3 separate regions of the Homo sapiens genome follow, and all the other regions are linked to region 2. Evidence: fine-mapped expression QTL. A gene starts in region 2. Each other region holds a variant in brackets. All regions are shown on one strand. Distances are from middle to middle. Region 1 has its middle 26 kb from the start of TMEM64. Region 2 holds the start of LRRC69 (leucine rich repeat containing 69). Region 3 has its middle 20 kb from the start of SLC26A7.

What was found. PIP is the estimated chance that this variant, and not a neighbour inherited with it, causes the effect.
Region 1: its variant is the best candidate, but not a certain one, in a credible set for the expression of LRRC69 in putamen (GTEx, PIP 0.77).
Region 3: its variant is the best candidate, but not a certain one, in a credible set for the expression of LRRC69 in gastroesophageal junction (GTEx, PIP 0.65).

What each region holds. Positions count from the first base shown.
Region 1 is chr8:90,667,598-90,675,788 of GRCh38, forward strand. No RefSeq gene overlaps it. Among named protein-coding and RNA genes, the nearest start is that of TMEM64, 26 kb to the left of the region's middle. The variant T/A (reference allele first, on the strand shown) is at 5,016.
Region 2 is chr8:91,098,147-91,106,337 of GRCh38, forward strand. It overlaps LRRC69 (leucine rich repeat containing 69), which reads left to right and starts at 4,473. Exons shown (of 8, transcript NM_001129890.2): 1 at 4,473-4,698. The coding sequence starts at 4,516.
Region 3 is chr8:91,224,792-91,232,982 of GRCh38, forward strand. It overlaps a transcript of SLC26A7 not described here. Among named protein-coding and RNA genes, the nearest start is that of SLC26A7, 20 kb to the right of the region's middle. The variant G/A (reference allele first, on the strand shown) is at 4,441.

The DNA.
Region 1 (8,191 bases), 430 kb before region 2:
TCACTGACATACTCAATTTTAGCTTAAGTTAAAAAGAAAAGGTGATAAAATTATATTTTTGTTTAAGTACCTAGGTATCTACTATGATTTTAGAATGCCACATGGTGGTTATCAATTCATTAGACAGAGGCTTGAAATGTATTTGTATACATATGTAGATGCATATAATTTTAATGAATTATCTTTTTGCCATTAAATTCTATGTATAGCTTATCTCAGCAGTATTGGTTTTTGGTAATATATTGTTTGATAAATCTTTGGAAAAGTTATCATGAAATCCATTGTTGTTCTATTCAAGCAGCCAGAAAGCACTTTATTTTAAGCATGATTCAGGTGGTAGAAAGAATAAAATCAGTTTTGTGTTGGTGTTGCTGCTTTTTCACTCTGAAAAAGATTTTTGTTGCGTTAAAGCCATTTTGCTTCTCGAAGTGAATCTTCTTTCCTATATTTTCAGTAAGGTTTCTTATGGGCATTTTCAAATAAAATATATAAGTGGAGACATATTAAACCAGTAATATTGCTTTCCAGGTGTTCAGTTTCAACTTCAAAACACAAAGAAAAATGTCAAATAGGACTTAGAATAAAGTTGCACTAGGTTTTTAAGACTTACAACATTCACTTATGGAACTACTCATATTTTAAGACAAATATAAAAATGTTCCCCCTGGTGAAATGTTTTCTATTATATGATACATAGTTAAATCAATGAGAAATAAGAGCAAGAATAGACAAATACTAAAGAGAAGCTTCATTGTGCAAATATCCGCAGAAAAACCTTGAAAAACATACCTCCCAGTTGTAAATATTACAGCTGAGTTTACACAAAATGTCTATTAAAGCCAGTGGGAGTCATGCATTCATACATTTCTGGCTAGTATAGGAGTTTTTAATAATCACTAAAGCCTTATATAAAGGTCTGTGTGATTCCTTGTCTTAATTATTTTAAGTAGCAGTTCCTGTTTCAAGGTCCAACTTTTCTGCTGATTCAATGTTTTGAAACATCAATTTCTGAAAATAAGGGGATAATCACTATTTCAGTTGTAAATTAGTAGGTATCACATTTGCTTTTGTAAACTTGATTTGCAATTGTTGTTTAAGCATTTACCTATTAGCATAACAACAGATAACCTCATATTATGTTTTGGTAATGACTATGTAGACATTTTATCTGTGAGAGGGCTAATGCCTGTCATGAATCAACCCACTAGTAACTTGTGCTTAATTTAAATCTGGTTTTAGCCTAATGGTTTGCTTATCTCACTTTGAGGGGCTGTTAAAGATCAAAAATAATTTAGAATTTTAAAAATTTGTATTACTTTTCAGAAATAGAAAAATCATGTTATAAAGAATCAACTAAAGCAGTTTGAACACAACAGATTTGATGAAGGCCATCTATGTTTGCTGCCTCCATAACTTGCCTTCCTTAACCTATTTATCTGCAGATGCTGTAGAAGAACCTCTTCTGCAAGACCATTCATTCATGCCTTGAGACAGTATGAATCAAGCTGACTTTTTTTTTTTCCAAGGAGTTTTTAAGTAAGTAAATGAATATACCAGTCAGGAGATGAAAGAGAAGTCCAGCCTAAAGATGCAAATATAGAAGATACCAGTATTTTAGTAGTTGGTAAAACCAAGGCAGTGTGTGAGATCATCTAGGAAAAAGATTATCTATCAGTTTTCTAAAGCCCATGCCTTTTTTGAATAAACAGAACACCTTTTCCCCCACCCCATTATCATTGAGAATCTTAGCCTCAACATCCACCTAGTTCCAGCTTTGTTTTTGTGTTCTACATTATAAAACCAACATTTTTGGCTTCATTTTCAAATTACTATAATATTTAACATGCCTTTTCAGACTATATATGTGACACCCCGATGAATAAGAAGAGCAGCCAGCTGAGAAGGGGAACTCTACAAAGCTATTTTTTCAACAGCTGTGACTGACCCACTCACCTCACAGGGTGGGTAAGAGCAGCAAACCATATAGATCTCTACTTATATGAAAACCATGTAGGTAGAGATCTTTGAGACTCAGTATATAAATGCCAGAATTTACACGACACTCTTGCTAAAAACAGATAATATCCATTTCTAAGAATGTGTGCAAAGGGAAATTTTTATGTTAGCACTTGCTTTTGGAAAGTCTAGCATGGTATATTACAGCGATTAGTAGTTCTATTCATTGTAAAATTTCAACCACATAGCTGCAAAGTAACTCACGGTAGATATATTTTATTACCAGCATTCAAACCATTCTCCTCTCTCTTAATATTTAATAGTTCTCTAATTCTAAATTTAGCAAGTCAAGTGGAGCAGCTCATGAACAGTGTAGGTGGTAGTATGGGTATCCTTTATTCAGCGTGGGCAGTCTTGGCTTCACTGTCAAGATTTTGTTGAACTCCATGGATTGGTTTACAAATATGTAATTGCTCTGTATATTATGCTGTTTACAGTGAATGTCAAGGCCTTTACTGACACCAATATCAGTAAAATATATTCTACAAAAAAAACAGCATTTTTTACTTTTAAATCAATAGTTCATGTGTACATTATTTAGAAATTTGAGGGAGATTGGGTTACTGTTTAATGTGTTTTGTCAGAGTGCTAAGAGTATTTCTAAACTCGCCTTAACTAAGTCTCCTCCCCTGATACCTCTGAGAGGTGTATTCTCATAAAGCAAATGATTCAAGGGAGAAAGTAACTAAGCAACAACAGTTAAAAAAAAAAACTTTATTAGTTAGGAATTTAGCTTCAAGCCACTACAAAGCTCTAGTAAGCTTGGCTGAGTACATGAAAGGCTTCTTTTTCCTGAGCTTATTAGGCCTGAATAGCCTCAAGCTAAGGCAGGCTCTTAGGATGCTCTCTCTTCATTTCTTTTCCTTTTCTTAGACTCCAGTGGGCACTAATGGAAATGGAGAGAAAGACAAACAAGATGACCCTGTTAGCTCCCTGTGTACTGCAGATGTGGTGTAGGCTGTGCTCCGAACTTAGAGAGAAGAAGGAAGAGAGGACAACCCCTCTATCCCCAAATTCTCTTCCAACCCTGTTCTGCCAGCCATCTGATTGGAAGCAAGAGGGAAGGGAGGCCTGTGGTGACCTCTCTCTTGACAACAGGGGAAAACCTGACCCTAGAAAAATCAGCTCAATCAATATCATGTGATCTTATCAAAGCAAGCAACCCTACTCCCTAAACTGGTGGAAACGGTGTGAATGTCAACTAGAGTTCTATACTTTAAAAACAACAAAAATATTGCAAATTTTGAGTATCCTTCCTAAAGAAAACAACATATTGTAATCTTGTTTTCTGTTAGATAAATCTCTGTTAAAAAGAAGCTTTGTTGGAACTCTCAAGTCTCTAAAAAATAAATCAGCCATCTTTTGATTGCTTAGGGACCCATGAAAAAGTCTGAGCACACACGCATTCTTTACGATGAGTCTCTGGCACTAAACCAGAGCCCTAGTGAGTGAGGCTGAGTCATGGCATTCCGCAAAGTCTCCTTTTGTGCCGCTGGCCTAAAGCCTAGATGAAAAGAAAGCAAAGAGGCTCCTTTGATTCCACTGCCCTAGGCCTACGCCCTAATTGTTGCTTTCAGAGTCTTGTAACTTCAGCAGTAAGAAGGGGGAAAGTCAAGTTTAAGAAAGAAAAGTGCCAAGGGTAAAAGATCAGTTCTCCTTCATAACGTAAAACTGATCTTACCTGTGTTACCCAGTCATGAGCCATTGGTGTGCATGTGTGAGTGTGTGTGTTGGGGGAAAAGGGAGCATTTTAATATGAAAACTATGTGAAAAGACACACTCTATAAGAGACAAAGAACAGCAAATCCCACAGAATGCTAAAGGTGCCAAAGGTAGAGCTGTTTACTTGTCTGCGAATCTCTTGGAAACCTTCAGCCAACAGCTGACTGGCTCAGCTTCCAAATTGTATCTTCCTTTGGCTCTCTGGCCTTCTCCCACTGAGATACTCATCATGTTGTATTATTCTTCAACAGCCATCATTTTCCTAGACTGGAAGCTACCCGAGGGCCAAAACATGTCTGTCTTGTTCTCCAGCACTTATTAGGCACTCAATAGATTTTGTTTTTCCTGTTGAATGGCATTTAATCATACACTTGACTGTAACCTTTATTCAGAACACTATTGGGGAAGGTATTTAGGGGAGGGCTTCATCATGTCTCCTAAAGCACAGAGTCTTTAACCAAGATTAACTCTGGAAGTATTATCATTTAAATAACTGATTATGTTAGGAAAATTAAACTCATAATTACACACACACACACATTTTAATTTGTTAGCCTCTCAGACTAGGTTTTATGAGTCTGTAGCCCAATGAACCATCCTTTTTTTGTATGCTCACTTGTAATTTCATTATGAAAATTTTTGTTTCAGCTAGACTGTAAACCACGAGAGTACAGAAGACTGTGTCTTGTTTACTGCTGGATTCCTTGGGCCCAACACCTGGCCTAACATATATTAGATATTCAATAGCCATTCACTGGATAAATGAATGAAACACTCAGCAATCCCTTTTTGCAGACAAATCAGTAATCTCTTTTTGTCACTTTGCTCATTTGATTACCTCCAGGTTTTCATTCAAAGACCATTAGAGGTCTAATGTGTATGCTAACTATTGTAGTTGCTGCAGCTATTCATGATCAGTTATGTTTATGCTTCAGTAATTCTTATATTTCATTAGAAAGAGAAGGAAAAATAAATTGTTACATTACTATTTCAGAAATTAATTTTAGAAGATATCTGAAACTCAACTCCAAAGTACATACCTCTAACTTTTTGATATTATAAAATGGTGCATACATCTCTATCTGCAATATATAATACATCTATATAATTCTGGACAGTATAATACAGTTTTTACTGCATGAAAATTTATCAATAAAGTTACATATAAGTAAAATTTTAAACTATAGGCCAAATTTATTTTTGTATTTACACATGGTCACAAATAACCCTTGGTGCACAATGGTATTTCTATTCTAGATAATCCCCACAGTTCCACT[T/A]ATGTAAAGTACCTTACAAAAAGTTCTTTTCAGTATTTAATCTAGACATAGATATCAAAAATGATTCTTCATTTTTTGAATTACTGAATTTTCAACAGATTATACCTTATGTTTAATCAAAAAAGATGAATAGGACTGGAAAAGTCAATTATAAAAGCAGTTGCTGCTTGCTAGTCTTACACAAATTTTTATATTTCTTTAAAGTGGAAATTTGAGACAGCAGAAGATAGTGATAAATTCTTACATATGATGCGTGTGCTTTTTTTTAAAAAAACAAATTTATGTATCATTTTTATGTTAGATGCCTTTTAATTTACATTGTCAAATTATAAGGCCCTCAGTATTAAAAGGAATCCAGAAAGATGTTCGTTCTGAGAAAAAAAAATGGTAATTTAAATACCGTATTGCTATTTAATCCAGGAAAGTTCAACTTTGCTCAATTCATAAACATTTAAACATAATTTATTTCCATAATAGGAACAGCTATGCAGAGGAGGAATGACAAGTAGAAGAGGGGAAAAGGGAAAATATAAACAAAAAAAACAGTACATTTCACACAAAAGCAGAGGAACAGAAAGTGAAATCTGAGACGTGAGTAAAGTACTCTTGTTACACCATGTTAACCACTTAGGCTGTAAGATTCAGCATGTGACACAATTTTCTGAGGCTTTTGAAGTAGTAATACTAATTAGACGATTAAGTATAGTACTATTAACCTTGACCCTGGAAGCTCCAGGAGCTTTCATTAATTATTTATTCATGGAGCTCAGACTATACTACTCTGGAGGTACAGAGATGACTATTTGCCTTCAAGGGATATACAGCCAATTAGAGAAGACAGACAAGTAATCAGAGGATGCTAATATAGTTTAATATGTACTATAATACTGGAAATGCTATTTTGTGGCAAAACATGCTAAGAAAAGAGTCCAAAAACTCTTTTTCAGGATTTCATGTGTTGGATGTTAAAATGCCATTTTACAGCTATTTTTTTAAAACTGGCATTAGTTGCACTTAAAATAAGCATTTCATAGCAATAATATTCAATATTATTTTATAGTTCCCTATATAATAAATGAATACTATTTTAGTCACATATTATTTCAAGTCAGTGTGCAACTTTTTCCCACAGTTAATATGGGACCAGCTTATTTCATAATTGATATATCAGAGCAAATTCAGCAGAGTGGGAAGGAATGAATTTGACATTCAATTCCTTGCTTCAGAATATAGTAAAATGATAGCTCCTTTGAAGTTGCCCCCAACTTTTTCTGAGTTTGGGGTTCTGTGAATATATTTGGTTCTGGAAGAGTTACAACAGTGTTGCTGGAGGGTACTATAGCACTAAATACCATTTTGATACCTTTGTTTATATGGGTGATCATAGTGATAGCTTTTGATATAAAATCAGGTAAAGCTCTGGATACTTCAAAGGAATCACTCCACCATTTAAATTAGTATTTCCACTGAACAAGGATCTGTGCAAAGGCTACTCCAAGTAGTGTCATGTGGAGGATGCAATAAACAGAGGTGCTATTGCCTAATTTGTTTCAGTAAGTATACATTAGGATTAACCACTCAAAAACACTAATCACAGTTTGGGCAAACATCCTCTCCCTCCTCTGAAGAAGTCTAAGACTGAACTTAAAGGTAATTCTACCAGAACTCTGAAGACAGTGTTGTGTAAAATATTCCCAGTGAAAATAAATTAGTGGAGAAAAAAATCTTAAAGAGAGGGCAAACTGTATGCAGCAGAAATTAGCAAGAGCAGAGATACATTAGAAGGAACGGAGCTACAGCAGGAAGGGTTGGTGAAGAGATTAGCCTGAGACCAAAAGAAACTGAAAGGTGAAGAACTGGGGATTTTAGAAATGCATTGATAGCCAATTTGGCTTGATTTCAGTCACATATTTGATTTCTTCATTCTTACTCTTAGGAGTATGCCTAAGAACATGCTGCACTGTCTCTACTCCTTCACCCACACCATCTCAAGCGAGGTGGAACCAATGATATATGTAGTAAATTTGATTAGAGTAAAAGTATCCTTGGCTGAGCTTCAGCCATCGTTCCTTTCAGGAGCATCATTTCTTGTGGAGAGCATATGTTCTCCTTCTCCTCCAAGGACAAGCTCTTTCTCCCATATAAGAAGACTCGTTTGGGTCCAATGCTGCCTTGAACTTGGTTAAATCTGCTGTATTCTGAGATTTGACATTATCAAATTCCTGTGGCTAACAGACATAAAGCTATATTCTCCAATCTGGCCTCTATTATTAATAAAAATGTTACGTTAGTTTCTGTCTGTTATTCTTTTGTTTCTCAATGAGATCAGTATTGGGTGGGAGAAAGGACTGTTATCTCATGTGCCAATTAATCATTTACTCATCAAGTATAGCATGCATTATGTGAGTGTGGCAGACTGCTAGTGGGCCCCCCAAATCTGCCCTTCCATTCTTAATCAGACATGGATATCCAGCTAGAGACCATATTTCCCATTCTCTTTGCACAAAATGTGACCATAGAGCTAAATATCACCATGGAAAGTGATCAGAAGCAATGAGTGCAACTTCTACCTCACTTGCTTCAAAGGAAGTTACTTTCTCTTGTCTTCCTGTGGACTAGACCTTAGGAAAAGCTTCAAGCTAATTTGACTATTCAGAGGAGGACTGAGTCCCAGGGGTTAATAGAGCAGCATTGTGGAGGGAATCTGAGTTGCTGGATGTCCTTGGAGAGTAGACTTGGCCCACTATGCTACCTTGCCCTATTACATAAAAGTGAAATAAACATTTGTCTCATTTCCATTGTGTATTTGGGGATCTTTCTTAAAGAAGCTTAGCGTTTACCCTAATACCCAGGATCAAGTTGATTTGGCCTTAAATAATCACTGTTATAAGATGCAGAGAGGTAGATTGAATTTATCATACGAATGTCTTTAGCTACAAATTAGCCCTATGGGGTATAGCTACTATACTTCTTAGAGAAATGAGTGGCATGATTTTAATATAAATAATATGACAACTATTAGTATATTATTAATACATCCCAAGAATGGTATGTGAGACAAGAAGCTCCCTGGTTGTGCTTATATCTGTAAGAAAGGTAACTTAAGTAAACATAGGCTTGCTCTAATTCTGTTTACTTGAACCAGTTAATTTTCAGTTACATTAAGAAAGTTTAAT
Region 2 (8,191 bases):
GAGGCCCTTGGCACCTTGAACTTCTATGGACAGGAAGCAGACTGAGGAAACTACTTGGCAAACATGGGCTACATTTTATGGAAAAGGAAAGAAATTCAAGAGGATGGAATCAAGAGCCCAAACGGGAACCAAAAGCTAATCCCAGGCAGTACATGTGGGCTGGGTGCAGTGGCTCACTCCTGTAATCCCAGCACTTTGGGAGGCTGAGGCGGGTGGATCACCTGAGGTCAGGAGTTCAAGACCAGCCTGGCCAACATGGCGAAAGCTTGTCTCTACTAAAAATACAAAAATTAGCCAGGCATGGCGGCACGTTTCTGTAATCTCAGCTACTCGGGAGGCTGAGGCAGGAGAATTGCTTGAACCAGGAGGCGGAGGTTGCAGTGAGCGGAGATTGTGCCACTGCCCTCCAGTCTGGGTGAAAGAGCGAGACTCCATCTCAAAAACAACAAACAAGAAACAAAAATAATGACAACCTTGTGCCTCATTTGATTTCAGAATTGCTATGAACCGGTGGCTACTTTGTTCCTCTGATTTTTCCCTTTTTTTTTTTTTTTTTTTTGAATGGGACTAACTATTGCCTGCCCTTTGTTTTACCTATGTTGTATTCTAGGTATGTGTGGACAGATAACTTGTCTCTTTAGTTGATAGGTCTTCAGGTCAGGATGAACTGCACTCAAGCTGAACTCAAGGAACTGCCTCAGAGGAGCTTCATCTACCTTTGTACCTAACTTTGATGATAAGATCTTTGAACCTGAGGTTCTAAATAGATGAAACTTTTGGGGAAAGGGGCTTTCCAGGAAGAGTGCCTCTGTTTTGCATATGGGAGGAATGTAAACAGCTCATGGCTACAGGGTGGATTGTGGTGGGTTTTAAAACATGTCCACAAATTTTTGGTCACTTGCCTTCAAGAGGCAGAGTCTAATTTGTCTTCCTTTGAATATGAGCTCGTTTCTGTCACTTGGTTCTAATGAATAAAATGTGGTAGAGGTGATTCTGTATGACTTCTGAAGCAAGGTCATGAAAGTAATACAGCTTCCACTCCACTTTCTCTCTTGGGATGCTCAACCTTCAAACCAAGCCACCATGTTGGGAGGGAGTCCAAGCTACATTGGAGAGGCTACATGTAGAGGCTGACCACCCTGAGGCCCTAGCCAACAAGAAGTATCTACCACCAGATGTGGATTAGTGAACCTTTAGATGGTTTCTGCTGCAGACTTTGAGCTGCTATAGCTGTCACTAAGAGAACTATAGGCAAGCCCTGCCCAGATTAAGATTTGTCAATAAAGGCCAGGTGTGGTGGCTCACACCTGTAATCCCAGCACTTTGAGAGGCCGAGGCAGGCGGATCACGAGGTCAGGAGATCAAGACCATCCTGGCTAGCACAGTGAAACCCTGTCTCCTAAAAATACAAAAAATTAGCTGGGTGTGGTGGTGGGTGCCTGTAGTCCCAGCTACTTGGGAGGCTGAGGCAGGAGAATGGCATGAACCTGGGAGGCAGAGTTTGCAGTGAGCTGAGATCACACCACTGCACTCCAGCCTGGGCGACAGAGTGAGACTCTGTCTCAAAAAAAAAAAAAAGATTTGTCAATAAAATAAATGTTTTAGGCCATTAAGATGTGTGGTGGTTTGTTTCCCAGTGATAGATAACTGGAATAGACAGTATGAATAGGATTGATTATATATTGGAAGTAAGGGAGAAGAAAGACTCAAGAATGTTAACCAGGTTTTCTAGGTTCAGCAGATTAACAGAAAGCAGTGTCAGATTGTATTGGTTTGTTTACCTACTTAAAGCAGTAACAAATTTCCAGGGTTTGGACAGTGTCATCTGGGATGCTAGCCACCCGATATTTACTTAAGAGGTGGTGATTGTCATGGATTTTTTTTTTTTAAACAAAGCCTTGTGATCAGTTTGTTTTGATAGTAACAGCTTTATTATTCTTAGGAAACAAATAATATCAAAGTAAAGAAGACGAAGCATAGGTTTGGAAGAGGGAAGGCAAACAGCAGTGATTAAGAAGCTGAAAAATTATCTTTCTAGCAACTGAAAGTCACTATTAGCATCTCTTGATTTACTGTTATGATATTGATATTCATTATAATCCCTTTAAAAATTTAATGATCCTTTTTTAGAATTCTGGCACTTGATTTTACTCTCTTACTGGAAGAGGTCTTGTCTCTAATAGCATTCTCTCAGTGAGGCCTTTCCTGGTCATCCTATTTAAAATTGTAAACTTCTCATTTCCCACACTCCCTATTTCTCTTTTCTGCTTAGATTTTCCCCCTTGGCATCAAATCACCATCTAACATAATAGATTTACTTATCTGATTGCTTTTCTTCCCCTACTAGAATGGAATTTCCTTGAGAACAGAAATTTTTATCTTTTTCATTCACTCCTGCAACAGTGTTGACTATGTAGTAGGTGGTCAGTAAATATTTGTTGAATAAATAAATAAAGTGATTTCTGAATGCCAAAGGAAGGATTGATTTCTGTTCAGATCACTTTCAGTGCAGAATGTATTTTATAATGTTCAAGTTTTTGGAAACCCACATCTAAGTGTGTCACATACATGTGTAATCCTAATGCCTCTAAGACTCATCCTATCTGGGTGCTAGTGGGCTTGTGATAATAATCAAATGTTACTGGCCACAACTCCCCTCCCTCTCCTTTTTGTCACCGTTTAAATCTTTTATTTGGAAATTTTTAAACATATGCAAAAATAACAAGACTAATATAATGAATGCTGATATGGTTTGGATTTGTGTTCCCTCCAAAATCTCATGTTCAATTATAATCCCCAGTGTTGGAGACTGGGCCTGGTGGGAGGTGATTAGATCCTGGGGGTGGAGTTCTCATGAATGCATTAGCATCCTCTCAGTGCTGTTTTCCTGCTAGTGAGTGAGTGAGTTATCCTGAGATCTAGTTGTTTATGTGTGTAGCACCTCCTTCCTATCTTCCTCCAGCTCTGGCCATGTGAAGTGCTGGCTCTCCCTTTGCCTTCCACCATTATTGTAGGCTTCCTTAGGGCTCCCCAGAAGCTGAGCAGATGCCAGCACCATGCTTCCTGTATAGCCTGCAGAACTGTGAGCCAATTAACCCTCTTTTCTTTATAAATTACCTAGTCTCAGGTATTTATAGCAGTGCGAGAATGGACAAATACAAACCCCTATGTGTCTATTACTCAGCATTAATAATTATCAACATTTTGTCAATCTTGTTTGATCAGTTTCTTCCACCCACTTTCCCCCCTAGATTATTTTTAAAAAAACTCAAGATATCATTTTATTTCACTTGAAAATTTCAGTATGCATTTCTGAATGTTAAGCACATTTAAAATAAATACTACCACCATACCATTTTCACATGTAACAGAATTAATTTCTCTCATCTAATAGCCGATGAACAAATTTCCCTGAGATGTTTGTATTCAACTGAGGATTCAAATACAGTCCAGACATTGCATTTAGCTGTTATTTGCCCTAAGTTTCACTTACATCGTAACAGTTTTCCCTCCTTTTTATTAATGTCTTTCATTTGTTGGTGAAACCTTGTGACATTGGACCAGGGACCAGTCCTGTAGAATCTTCCATGTTATAGATTTGACTGTTTCCCTATAATGAACTTAACTTATTCTCTAGTTCTGTTTTTTTGTAAATGGTAGTTAGATCTTGAAGCCATGATTAGATTCAGATTTAATTTTTGGACAGGAACATTTCATAGGTGGTGCTGCTGTGTACTTTTTAATTCATTACTTCATAAGGCTTATAATGTGATTGTCTCAATTTTATTGATGCTAAAATGATTAGTGGGTTATTAACCTGATCACTTGATTATAAAGTTCCTCATCAACCTTTCATCTAATACTTTCAGTCTCCAATTATGATTTTTGCATAGCTCCATTATTTTATTAGAATTTGCAAAAATTGTGATTATTCTAGTTATTTTGTCTTTCTCATTTATTAGTTTCAATTCTTGTGAATAAGAACTTTATTAACTATTAAGTTATATTTAAGTGCAGTTTGTACTGGAAAAGCAGAATAAATGCTTATATTTTTTCCTTTATCAATTTTCAGACTGAGTTGGTGCGCTAGTAATTCCCAGGGTGAGTAATGTTTCTTTTTAAAAAATGCCATTATGAACTCAGATTTTAATGTGTTTTGATATGTTTCAGTCTATTCTAGATTATTTCTTTCTGATCCTTAATATTTTCCATCTTAGACTAGTGGGAGCTCCTAGAAGTTCACTTCTGTGTCCTCATTAATCTCTGATAGCTTTAATATCGCAGGCATAAGCTATTTTAGGCTTACATTATACATTTCCTGCCCCAAACCTGGACCATCTACTTTCCTTTCGTATCTTTCACATAGGAAAATAATCTAATGCTTCCCCCCTTCAACATGGTGGATCTCAGAATGTTCTTGTTTCTATGACACACCAATTCTGTAATTAGAGGTTCTAAAGCTGTATAATAAAGAACTCTAATGGTTACCTTGTTTTCTACTTCTTTTCCAAGATCATGACTGAGAGATTGTTAATAAAAGCATTGAGTGGTGGTAAAAATACGAAGATCATTACTTTGAATGGGAAGAAGATGACAAAGATGCCCTCAGCATTAGGAAAACTGCCTGGCCTGAAGACTCTAGTCCTTCAGAATAACCTAATCCCCAAAGTGTGTCCAGAGTTATGCAACTTGACCCAGGTGAGGAACAGTGTTTTGCTGTTGTGGTTTGGTATTGAAGATGGAAAACAGGAAGAGAGAAAAAAGGGGTAAGAGACAGAACAATAACACTTCGATCTATGGAGACTTAGGTATCTGGAGACTTAATGTGGAGTGTTGCTGGAGAGGCATCAGAAGGCTTTCTCCCTTAGGGAATTCCATGTGGTAGGGAGAGATGTTTCAATTTATTCATGTGCTCTTTGGCCCACATCTGGAGTCAGGGGACTAGGTCTCTGCCACACTCATCTTTTTAGAGGCTGTCATCTGGAAAGGGGTTGGAAACCTGGATCTGGTCGTCTATCTTGGGGGCTTACATCTGGAAGTAGTTTTGAGGATCCAGGAGATGCTGTTCACCCTGGGGACTGTCCTGAAGCTTTTGCATTTAGAATGAAGAGACATTTAGGATGCAGCAAGGGAGTTCCTTTTCAATTTCCTAGGGCAGGCTGAAACTTTGAAATGGAGTGTTGGCAGGGAATAGGAAGGAGGGGACATTTATTTCTCCTGAAATAGTCTTTAAAGGAAGTTTAATATTTTAAATAAAAAATATTCTTTTTTAAAGAGGAATAGTTGACATGAATGAATCCCATATGCTTGTGTTAAACCTTTCTGCCTAACAATGTGAAACTCTAGCTGCCAAAAATCTTGAGGTTGAGAGAAGGCAAGGGATATTAACTTTGTAATTTTCTTTTTGTTCACTGCTGAATTGTCATCAGCACAGGAAGAACCTAGAAGCAGCTAAGGCGTTATAGCTCATTAATTTTGAATTTACAGTTCCAAAAAATAAATCTGTATTTTCTTACTTTCACCCTACCTCATTTCCTTTTACGTTTAAGAAATTGAGTTTGTAATCTGTAGTTGTATCTTTATAAGAAATAGGGTAACTTTTACAAAGTCCCCCTTCATTAGTAATTGCAGAAGGTATACTTGTAGTTACAAGACAACAAGGACTTGGAATTTTTTAATAGGAAAGAGGAGTTTCTTTGCAAAAGAATTTGGGACTTGACTGAGTCATGAACCTATTCTCTCCCTCTATTTGAATTTATTTCCATTAAAGTAGTACTAACCATTGGTTACCGAGAATTAAATATTACAAAAAGCTTATAGCAAGAAGCTATCTTCTATCCCACTTCCCCTCATCCTCAATCCCGATCTCCATATATAACCACTTTTAACTCATCTATTTTATTGATTTGTCTATTTTTGGCATCATTTTTCTTCATCTTCTAGATACAGTTATATTAATGTATCTATTGTGTATTGATCCACATCTGGAATCAGGGGATTAGGTCTACAGGTATCTTTTACATGTAATGTTACTACACCTTTATTTCTTCCTTCATCAACTGCAGTCTCTTTTGACTCCCCACTTCGTAAGATGACAGTGTCAGCCTTTGTAATCCACCTTCAGCTGTCCTTTCCTCTCCCCCCTCACAAACTCTGAAGTTTTTACTTTTATAACACTTACAGCTTTTATATCCTATTCAGTTATAACCATAATTAAATATTTGTTTTGTGTCTTGGGTAACTCTAAACTTCTAAAAATATATATTACTAATAAATAAATATTCACATGGAGTCAATTAATCTATGATTATATTTTCTTTCTTATATGCCATTTTTGTTCCCTTGGAGTTTCTAATAACCTTTCCTTTGTTCTTGTGCCTTAGTTTTATGGTAGCCTCATTTTATTTCAAACTGTATAATTTTTTTCTGTCAAATGTACTTTTCCTTGAGAGACTTCCCTCTAAGACCCTCCATCCTCTGCCCCACTCTATGTTGACTGCTATCTAGGTTTGCTAGATACTGTCAGCCAAGGACATTCCCTTTGTTGCTCTCTTAAATTGGACCCACTGTTTCCTGTATCCTGTATTTTCCTTTCTTGGCTTGCTCTCTTAGTTTTTCAGGAGTCTCGAGAAATCATCCTAGTCTGGGTATGTGGTAGTTAAATTGTTTGATCCCTTGCATATCTGAAAATTTCTGTATTCTTGTCTCACACTTGGTTAATAGTTGTTTAGTAAAAAGTTACACATTCCAAGATATATTTCCATAGGAAAAAGCCCCAAGAGTCTGATTATCATTACATTGTCTTCTTCTTGTGGCTCCCTTTGTTACTTGCCCTCTCATTCTTCTATTTAGGGGTAACCTACGTGTTGACTTCTGTTTGTTCACTCTTAGTTCCTTCACCAGGGAGCTGTCTCAGCCCAGTGCTTACTTTTAAAGAAGAAATTACACCACTAAGAATTCAACTGATTTGCAACTAGGCTGCTTATAGTCTATTCTGTCTTTAAAGTACTTTAAAAGTCAGATTCAGGCCAATGGTATTATGTTTAGCTGTTCATGAACTAGTAGTTTTTCTTATATAGGGTCTTGGAGAAATTGTGGAATTTTGGAAAAAAAAACACAATTTTCCCTATGTAATGGGAGTTCTAGAAGCATGCTAGATAAAATGTGCTAGAAACCCTCAAAGAATGGTTGTAGATTATCATAGAGTTCAGATATACAGCTCCATCCGTCTCACAGTTGGTAGTAAAGGGCAGATGGCCCGGTGCAGTGGCTCACACCTGTAATCCCAGCAGTATGGGAGGCCAAGGTGGGCAGATTGATTGGGCTCAGTAGTTTGAAACTGGCCTGGGCAACATAGTGAGACCTCATCTCTACAAAAAAATAAAAATTAGCCAGGCACAGTGGCACGTGCCTCTGGTCCCAGAGGATTGCCTGAGCCCGGAATGTGGGAGGTTGCAGTGAGCTGAGATTGCACCACTGCACTCCAGCCTGGGCTGCAGAGTGATTCTGTCTCAAAAAAAAAAAAAAAAAAGGAAAGGCAGATGAAGGTTTCAAAGAAAGAGACAGCTTAGAGAATTGAAAAGGAGAGTTTAGAAGTGCTGGCACAACTTAACTGGTTCAGCAGTTACCAGCTATATACAAGGCACTTAGTTTCTTTGGGCCTCAATTTCTGCCTTCATTTATTTAATCCACAAATAAGCAATGAGGACCATCTGTGTCTCAGGCACTCAGAACTGGTGATTCAGTGATGAGCAAAACAGGTGGAAATCTCTGCCCTCATAGAGTTTATGTTTTAGTCAGGAATGATGTAAGAAACAAATAAGCAAAATAGGGCGTGAGGCGGTGATTAGTGTTAAGGGGAAAAATAAAGCAGAGAGAAGGGGCAGGGTGTATTGTGACATTCAGCTGACCTGACTGATGCCACAGAGTGTCTCTTGTGGGCTTTATAACTTGGTGATGTGTATGTCAAAATTCAGTGATTATAATTCTTATTCTAACAGTTTTCTCTAAAATTCCCGTGTACTTTTAAAGTTAATTTGAACTCTTTCTTATGTGGCTATAGTCATACCGTTTATCAGTAATGTTTAAAGCTACCCATCTACCTATGACTTTTGTTTCATTTTGTTTTATGTCTACAGTGTTTATCTTTTGAAGTAGCCTTTTATCATCATATGAAGTCCAGTTTGCCCCA
Region 3 (8,191 bases), 130 kb after region 2:
GCTAAGTCTGCTGGTCCTTAGAGACTGCAGCCACCCCTCCCGAGGAGCTCAGGCCCAGGGAGATCTGAATTCTGTCCCTGAGCCTCTGGCTGGAGTTATTGGAGATCCTGCAGGGAAGCCCTACCCACTGAAGGATGGGTCAGGGTTAGACCTGAAGAGGCACTCTGGCCACCGACTGACACAGCCAATGCGTTGGGCTGTGGGGACAAGAATTGGGACCAAGCCATCCAGCCTCCCTGGCCCCAGCAGGGGAAAAAGCGCAGCCTGGAGCTATAGAAATGGGTGCCGCCTTTCCCTTGCCTAGGGAGCTTTGCGTGTTAGGCAGTTGTGAGTCCCAGTGCTGGCTGCTGCCTCTTCCCCAAGGAGCTCAAATGGCTTAGACAGCAGGCAGTGGCAGCAGGTGCTGGTTGCTCCTCCTTCTGGGAGTTCATTAGGCTTGAACAGATTCCAGCTGAGAGGCTATAAGAATCTGCGAGTTCTGGGGTTGGGATGCTAGATCCCAGTGGCATGGGTTTGCAAGTGGGATCTTCTGATCTGTGGGTTGCACAGTTCCGTGGAAAAAGCACAGTTTCCCCAGCTGAGTAGCATGCTCACTCACTGCCTCCCTTCTCTGGTGGGAGGGGATTGCCCTTCCCTGTGTGGCTATCAGGTGGGCTGCTGCAGCACACTGCTCTTCCTTCTCTCGTGGGTCTTGCCAGCCTTCTAGTCAATTTTGATGAGGGAACCTGGATACCTTGGTTGCCGGTGAAGGATTCACATGCTTATTATGATTTTTTTTTTTTTTTTTTGATGGGAGCTTCTGAACAATGCTGCTTCTAGTAAGCCATCTTGGCCCTGCCCCCTAGAAAAGTGTTTTTTTTTTTTTTTTTTTTTTTTTTTTTTTTACCATTTTAACCCCATGATCTCAGCTACAATGTATTTGCTGTCTTGGTTGTGGGGAGAAAATTTTATCCATCCATCTATCTCAGGTGACACAAAAGAAAATGTTGGCTCCCTAACTTCTCCTTTCTACTCCTGTCCTTGTCAGATTCCAAGGTACTGCAACCTGGTTTCTGTTCCTCCATGTCATGGCAACTGGCATTTCAGAGGTCATCAGTGACTTACTCCCAGTCCAGCTGCTCCTCCTCTGGCTGGTACTCCATGGAAGGTTGGGCTTAATTGGCTGTCTCCTGCCTCTTGGAACTACATCCCTGAGGTCCATTCCTTTTCCCCATCCCTTTAACAGAATCCTCTTCTGTATTTCTCTCAAAACCATGTGTTGCAGAGGATTCTCTACTCAGTCTCATTTTCTTCTCTTTGAGTGCTTTTTCTTTATCAAATGAATCTCTACTCTCACCAGTTTCATTTAGCTTCATTTACCACACCTCGGTGGGTAGTATCTAAATCTGTTTCTCCATTTTAACCTATGTTTCCAAGCTTCTCAATTTCAAGACATCTAAAATAGAACCTCAAATGACTTCCAGACATTTATTTTCTAACAGTGGTAGTCCTGAAAATAACCTAGACAACAAGGAACATGCAAAGAGGTATTTTCTGAAGAAAAACTAATGAGAGTTTCTAATGTTATTTTGGAGATTTTAGAAGCTTTATTAAATGAAAAAATGGAGTCCAGCTTCATTTAAAATTTTCTCAGTAATCTCCACTAATAAATACGTTAAGGATGAAAACAATGGTTTTTAACATGAAAGTCTTAAAAAAGCTAATATATAATAATGGCTTCTTATGATTACCTCTTCTTCACAAATTGTTCTTTTCCCATTTATTCACTTATTAGATAAATATTAATGAGGAGCTACTATCTACCAGGCACTGTTCTAATGATATGGCATGAACAAAACTGGCAGGGCCCTTGCTTTCATGAAACTTACTTGCTAATGTAGGGAGACAAACAATAAACAATGGGCTAACAATATAATGATAAGTACTTTGGTGAAGTAAAAGGGGATCCAGAAGATAGAGAATTATGGGAATACTTTTTATGGAGGGCCTGAATCAGACAAGGTAGTATTTGATCAGAGATCTGAAGCAAGTGAATGAGTGAGTCCTATGGATATAATGGATAGGAACCAGTTGAATATTTGAAAAGCTGAAAGCTTAGGCTAAATGTGTGCTAAAAAAATTCATGACTCTGATGTCAGGAAATTTACTGTTACTGGTTGCATGGTCATATATCAAGTGTTACCATAGTAACCAGATTCTGGAAGAATGCATCTGCTTCTGCCCTGTGGGGTCAACTAATGTTCTGAATCACTGATTAATTAAATTAGAAACTTAATCAATCTCACTCCACATATACATGTATGTGTATGTGTTTGAGAATGTGGTTATCTTGTCAATCTGTAATCCATCTGAAACTCTCTTTTTGGGATCTGGAACTGCAAAATATTTTCTAACAATTACAACCAACTTTCTTTTATTCTGATGAAGTTAAAGCAACTGGAGAAATAACTTCTTGTGAATTATCTAGCTTCAATTTTTCTCCTGTTTTGTCTCTTCTGTGGCTGGCCTTTGGAATTTTTGTTTTTCACTCACATTTGCCTCAGAGAATAAAAAAGAGAAACTCAAGTTTCTTTCACTGTTTGTTATAAACTCTTAACATCTATGTTGTGGGGGAGTAGTTTCAAACAGAAGAATATATATTATTTTAGGATTATTAATGAATTCTATTTATGTCCTCAGTTATTAAGAGTAATTCAAATGTGGTCTCTGATTCTTTATATTTGTGTATCTTATTTGTAAATGCAATCCAAATTGATTTTCTCCATTTAATTACTCAATATTACGAACAACTTTTCACAATGGTATTAGTTGGATTCAGTGGATAAAGAGTTGCTACATCTAGCTAAAGTATTGATATTATTTTTCTATAATCAAAGCAATAAACCATTATGTATATTAGCTATTTTAGGACTTTTATGTTAAAAAGCATTGTTTTCTTTCTTAACATATTTATTAATGGAGATTACCAAGAAAGTTTTTAATGAAGCTGGACTTAATTTTTTTATTTTGAAGCTTCTTACATCTCCAGAATAACATTTGAAACTCTCGTTGGTATTTCTTCATAAAATATCTCTGCATGTTCCTTCTTGTCTAAGTTATTTTCTAGACTGCAGCTATTAGAAAATAAGTGGCTGGAAGTCACTTGCTCTTGCTAAAGAACTGTTTTCCCTCGTGGCCTTGAGAATGTCCCTAGGCAGCTTAAGATGCAAATTTACTGCTGGTACTTTGGGAGCCTTCTGTAGGCCACAAGGCTCCAAATGGCATGAAGCCTCCTGATCTGAAGTCCAAAAGGGATCTGGAGACTCATAGAGCAGCCATGGCACACCAGAATTAAAGAAGGGACTTTTAAAAGGTCCTTGTCTCATTAGAGTCAGTGCCCTGAGGGGCCAGAGAAATCACCTGAGGTGATGGGAGACATGTGCCTTGTTTCTAGATGCATGGTTGGAGTGAGTGAAGATGGTTAATACGACAGCACGGTAGTAAACATAGGTGTTGGCGAGTGAGGAAATGAGCTATGAAAACTAAAAGAGCAAGCCTGCTTTAGAAGGTGGGATGCGGAAGGCAAAGGATATATAATCATAGATTCAGGCCATCCACGGGCAGCTGAGAGTTCTGACACATTCAAAGGTAAGTGTTTGGGCCTTAAGAAGTGAGATGGGGCTTATTAATATCACTGCAGACTAAAGGTGAGCAAGCTGGTCAGCATTAAGCCTGGATCATGAGTTTCAGGCAGACAGCCTGGGGCAGGGGCTGCATGGGCCAGGAGCTTCACAACGGCCACTTTATGGGAAGTTACTGGCTTTTATTCTTGTAAGTAATTTGATACATATTTGGAGAGAGAGGAAGAAAGTGAGTGTATTGGAAAGTAGGGAAGCTGGATCACGGCCATCACTCCCCTAGTAAAATTAGAAAAAGCCTCCAGTCACTTTAATTATAACTAAAGCCTGTGATTTCTTTCTGGTGTGACTGAAGAAACCAGGGGTTTCTTGTGGTTTATTATTTTATCTTTCCAAATAGAGGACAAAAAAGTGCGTTTAAAATGTTTTAAAACCGACCAATTAAAATGCCTCATTCAAGTAACATTGGTTTGAAAAAGAAAGTACTACTTCAAAGAATAAAATATCCATATCTCACCAAAAGATTTTCATTTTATGTTTCTAAGTGCTCATCCAACAAATATTTATTGCTACTTCTCATAAGGAAGACATTATCCAAACTTAGGAGTGGACGGACAAAGCCTCAGAGAGCTTTTTTCTGTCCTTAGCACAATGACCAGAAAGGGATTCCTTTAAAATGTCAGACCAAGCTCTTCCCTGCTCGAATCCTGCCAGTCTCTCTCTCCATATGTTATTTCCTCTGTCTGGATCACTGTTCCCTCAGATGTTCTGGCTCATTTCCCCACAACCTTTAGGAAGTCCCTCCCTGGCCACCCTATTTAAA[G/A]TTATGATGCCAACCCCAACATGCACAAAGGCCTTTCCCTTATCTTTCTCCCTCATCACCTTCTATTTCACTCTACTGTTTACTTACTCATTTATTTATTGTCTGTCTTGCTCCACTATAGTGTAAATTCCATGAGGGCAGGGCATGAATTTTTCCCTCTAACATTTTATTATGAAAATTCTCAAACATAAAGAAAAGTTGGAAGAACTTTGCAATGAACACCCATATACTCATCACCTAGATTCTAAAATTAACATTTACTATATTTGCCTTATTAAATATCTATTTATTCCTCTATTCAGTCATCAGTCTATCTTATTTTTTATGCATTTTGACGTAAGTTGTAAACATCAGTATATTTCCCTTCTAGCATTTCAGTGTGCATATCACTAACTAGAGTTAAATACTTATCTTTTTATCTTTTTTACATGAACATTCTTATACACAAATTTACAAGACTTTGGCAAATACATTCCCAAACCTTTATAAAGATATGGAGCATTGCCACCACCCCAAAAAATGTTCTCATGTCCCTTCCCTGTAAGGTTGCTGGATTTTACAAATAAAAATATAGAATGCCCTGGTAAATATGAATGTTAGCAAACAATGGATACCCGTTTATATAGTAATGTCATAAACATTGCACAGGGCACATTTGTACTAAAAAATTCGTTTATCTGAAATTCAAAATTAATCTGGCAACGCTGCTTTCTGGTAAATTCCATGCTGCCCCTTCACCCCCGGCAAACAACCATTTTTCTGATATTTTTTTCCACCATAGATTTTTGCCTGTTGTAGAACTTCCTATAAAAGGAATCATACAATATGTATTCTTTTCTGCAAGGCTTTTTTTTCACTTAGTATAATGGTTTCAAGATTCATCCATATTGTTGCATATATCACGAGTGTGTTCCTTTTTGTTACTGAATAGTATTCCATAACGTAACTGTAATACACTTTGCTCATCCATTCTCCAATTTGGGCTTGTCCAATTTTTGTTTAATATGAGTAAGCTGCTATGAACCAAAGCATACATAGAAACATTGGTTAGCTGCCAGTTATGTTCTAGACAAAGTCCAAACTCCTTGACATCTCTCACAGGCACTTTGTGGTTTAGCTTTTCTTACCTCTTCTCTGGTCTCACCTCTTGCCACTCTTTCCTTAGGCTCACTTTCCTCCCAACTGTCTTCCTTTCAGTGCTCTGAAGCTCCCATGCTATTCCCACCTGGGGACTTTCTCTATGCAATTCCCTCTAATCGGAAAACAGTTTCTCCCAGATGGTTCCTGGCACATTTTGGTCCTATTCCTGTATTTACCACAGTGGGACCAGAAGCAAGTTTTCTCACTTCTCAGGACCTCTATCAGTGACCTCTCTACCTGTAACATAAAAAATAGTCCCTTTTCAGGGGGTTACTATAAAGATTAAATGAATCAATTTATGAAAAGCACATAGCCTAGCATCACAGTATGTGTTCAGTCAATGTTTGTAATAGATGTCATGGAGGACCTTGAATTTCTAGAAGCTTATGCTTTATGTATACTGAATACTACGGAACAGGGAATGGCTAAAAGTGATGGCAACAACACGGAAGATGAATTAAGAGGGTATAATCAAGCAAGGAGGAAAAAGACCAAATTGAATTTATAAGACTAGTCTGCATGAGTACACTAAATGACAGTTGAGTTTATGGCAGGGGGAACTGACCATGAGATAGATTTAGAAGACCTTTATTTTAGAGAGAGAATCAACTTACTATGCATCAAAGAGCAAAGTGGGTGGAGACATGAATAGCTGGAAACTTTCCATCTTATCTGGGTTTTATCTGGGTATTTATAAGAATGTGGGTGCCAAGTAGCAAGGTAAGAGATTTGGAAAGGGGGCCTGGATATGGTAGAAAAGGATGAGTTTGATTTTATGATAGACGTGGGAAATTAAGGATGCTAACTGGACATTAGTGGAAATGCTCAGCAGGCCATTGGAAAGAAAAATATAAGCAAAGGCATGGATTCTGATGAGGAATGAATTATATCCTTATATCATCAGATGACTATGATTTCATTGCTGTTCTACAAATTTAAGTCCTGTTTTAGACTAGTCTTATATGGAGTTTTAACAAGTGAACAATTAACTTATTTCCTTAGATGTTGTAGTCTCAGATAGCAAAAATACAGGGACATGTACAGAAGGCTCTTGTAATGGCGAGAAGGCCAAAATCACACACGGGGAGCCTGTTGCAAAGTCAGAAGGCACACTCTTGGAAAGGGACCACTTAATAAGGTCTGGCTGTGTCAGCGATGAAATACTTTTCTTTTCCTTTCTTTCCTTTTCTTTTCTTTTTTCTTTTTCTTTTCTTTTCTTTTCTTTTTCTGTTTCTTCTGAAGGATTAAGAGTCTGACACTTTGAATCACTGTGTTTCAACTTGCAGCTTCTGGTGGATTATTTTAAATTCTAAAACTGTAAGAAAAAAAATGGAGCCAGTAGGTTTGGTTTCTGATCTCCAGGCAGGAGGCAAATACTGTATGACATAGGGAACTCTGTGTGTATGTGTGTATGTGTGTGTATGTGTGTGTGTGCACATGTGAGCATTGTCTTTTTTCCCTGTTTTGTTTCTTTACCACGGCTAGGCAGGAACTGGAGGTCAGAGAATTATCTGACATTACTACAATGGCTTTTCCTTTGATATAATAACAACTTCATAGTCATAGTGATGGGTCTTTGTGTCATTTTTTAGAATAGTAGGTATATGAAATCTTCATCTATTATTTTGTATAATTTTGTTAGTGTGTAATATAACAAAGACTACCTAAGATTTTCAAGCTCACAAGTTCTTTTAGGACCAGAATGACTAATTAAGAAAAACAAAATGAATCTGAAATTAAGTTTTTCCTGAATGTATTTTTAAAGTACATATGCAATAAATAAAGGACTACTTTCCTGATAGAAATTTTCATGGAACTCAAGTCTTTCAATGTAAGCATTTTCAGATTTATTTCTAATCAAATACATTTATTTCTAACCAAAATATGCTATTTTTATTTCCCATAATATAGGGTCTGTATTATGAATGAGAATTCTAATACACTATGTTTTTAGAGCAATATTTAGAGAAACTCAGAGAATCTGTGATGAAAAGATATCAAGTATTTTACTGCTGATTCCACACTTCACTTTCCATGAAAGGGATACTTTATTGTTAAAAACAAAAAAAGTCCTTTTCCACTGCAACATACTACGTTCCTTACAATATTAAGTATATTCCCTTTTATATTTTACCAGTAGATTTTCCAGGGCATGTGCCCCATAACCAGTGTTTTGGGTTGAACATGTCTTGCTGAATTTCAGAGGCATCTAAAAAAATCACATTGGTTTGATTTGGGGAAATCAGAGTGCCAGAATGCTTGAATAGGTGGCAAGGAGTGGGGAGACTTAGTGATGATGTTTTCAGACATCATAAATTGGCCTATGTCATGGAGTTAGTGTTTGTTGACAGAACATCCACAAGGCTCAAAGCATTGTATAAAAGAATCAGGCACTGCCTATGCCTAACAGGCTTGTAATACACCTCTATGAAGCTTCAATCTAAACAAAATGTTGCTTTTACTGGGGGAAAAGCATTTAGAGAATACAGATGATTGAATGAGTTGATCTCTTGGGGCTCCTGTGATTCCAAGAAAGGCTATGCATTTGTGAAAGCTGGTGATTACTGACAAATTAAGACTTGACAATTCTAGCTAAGAATGTGCTTAATGT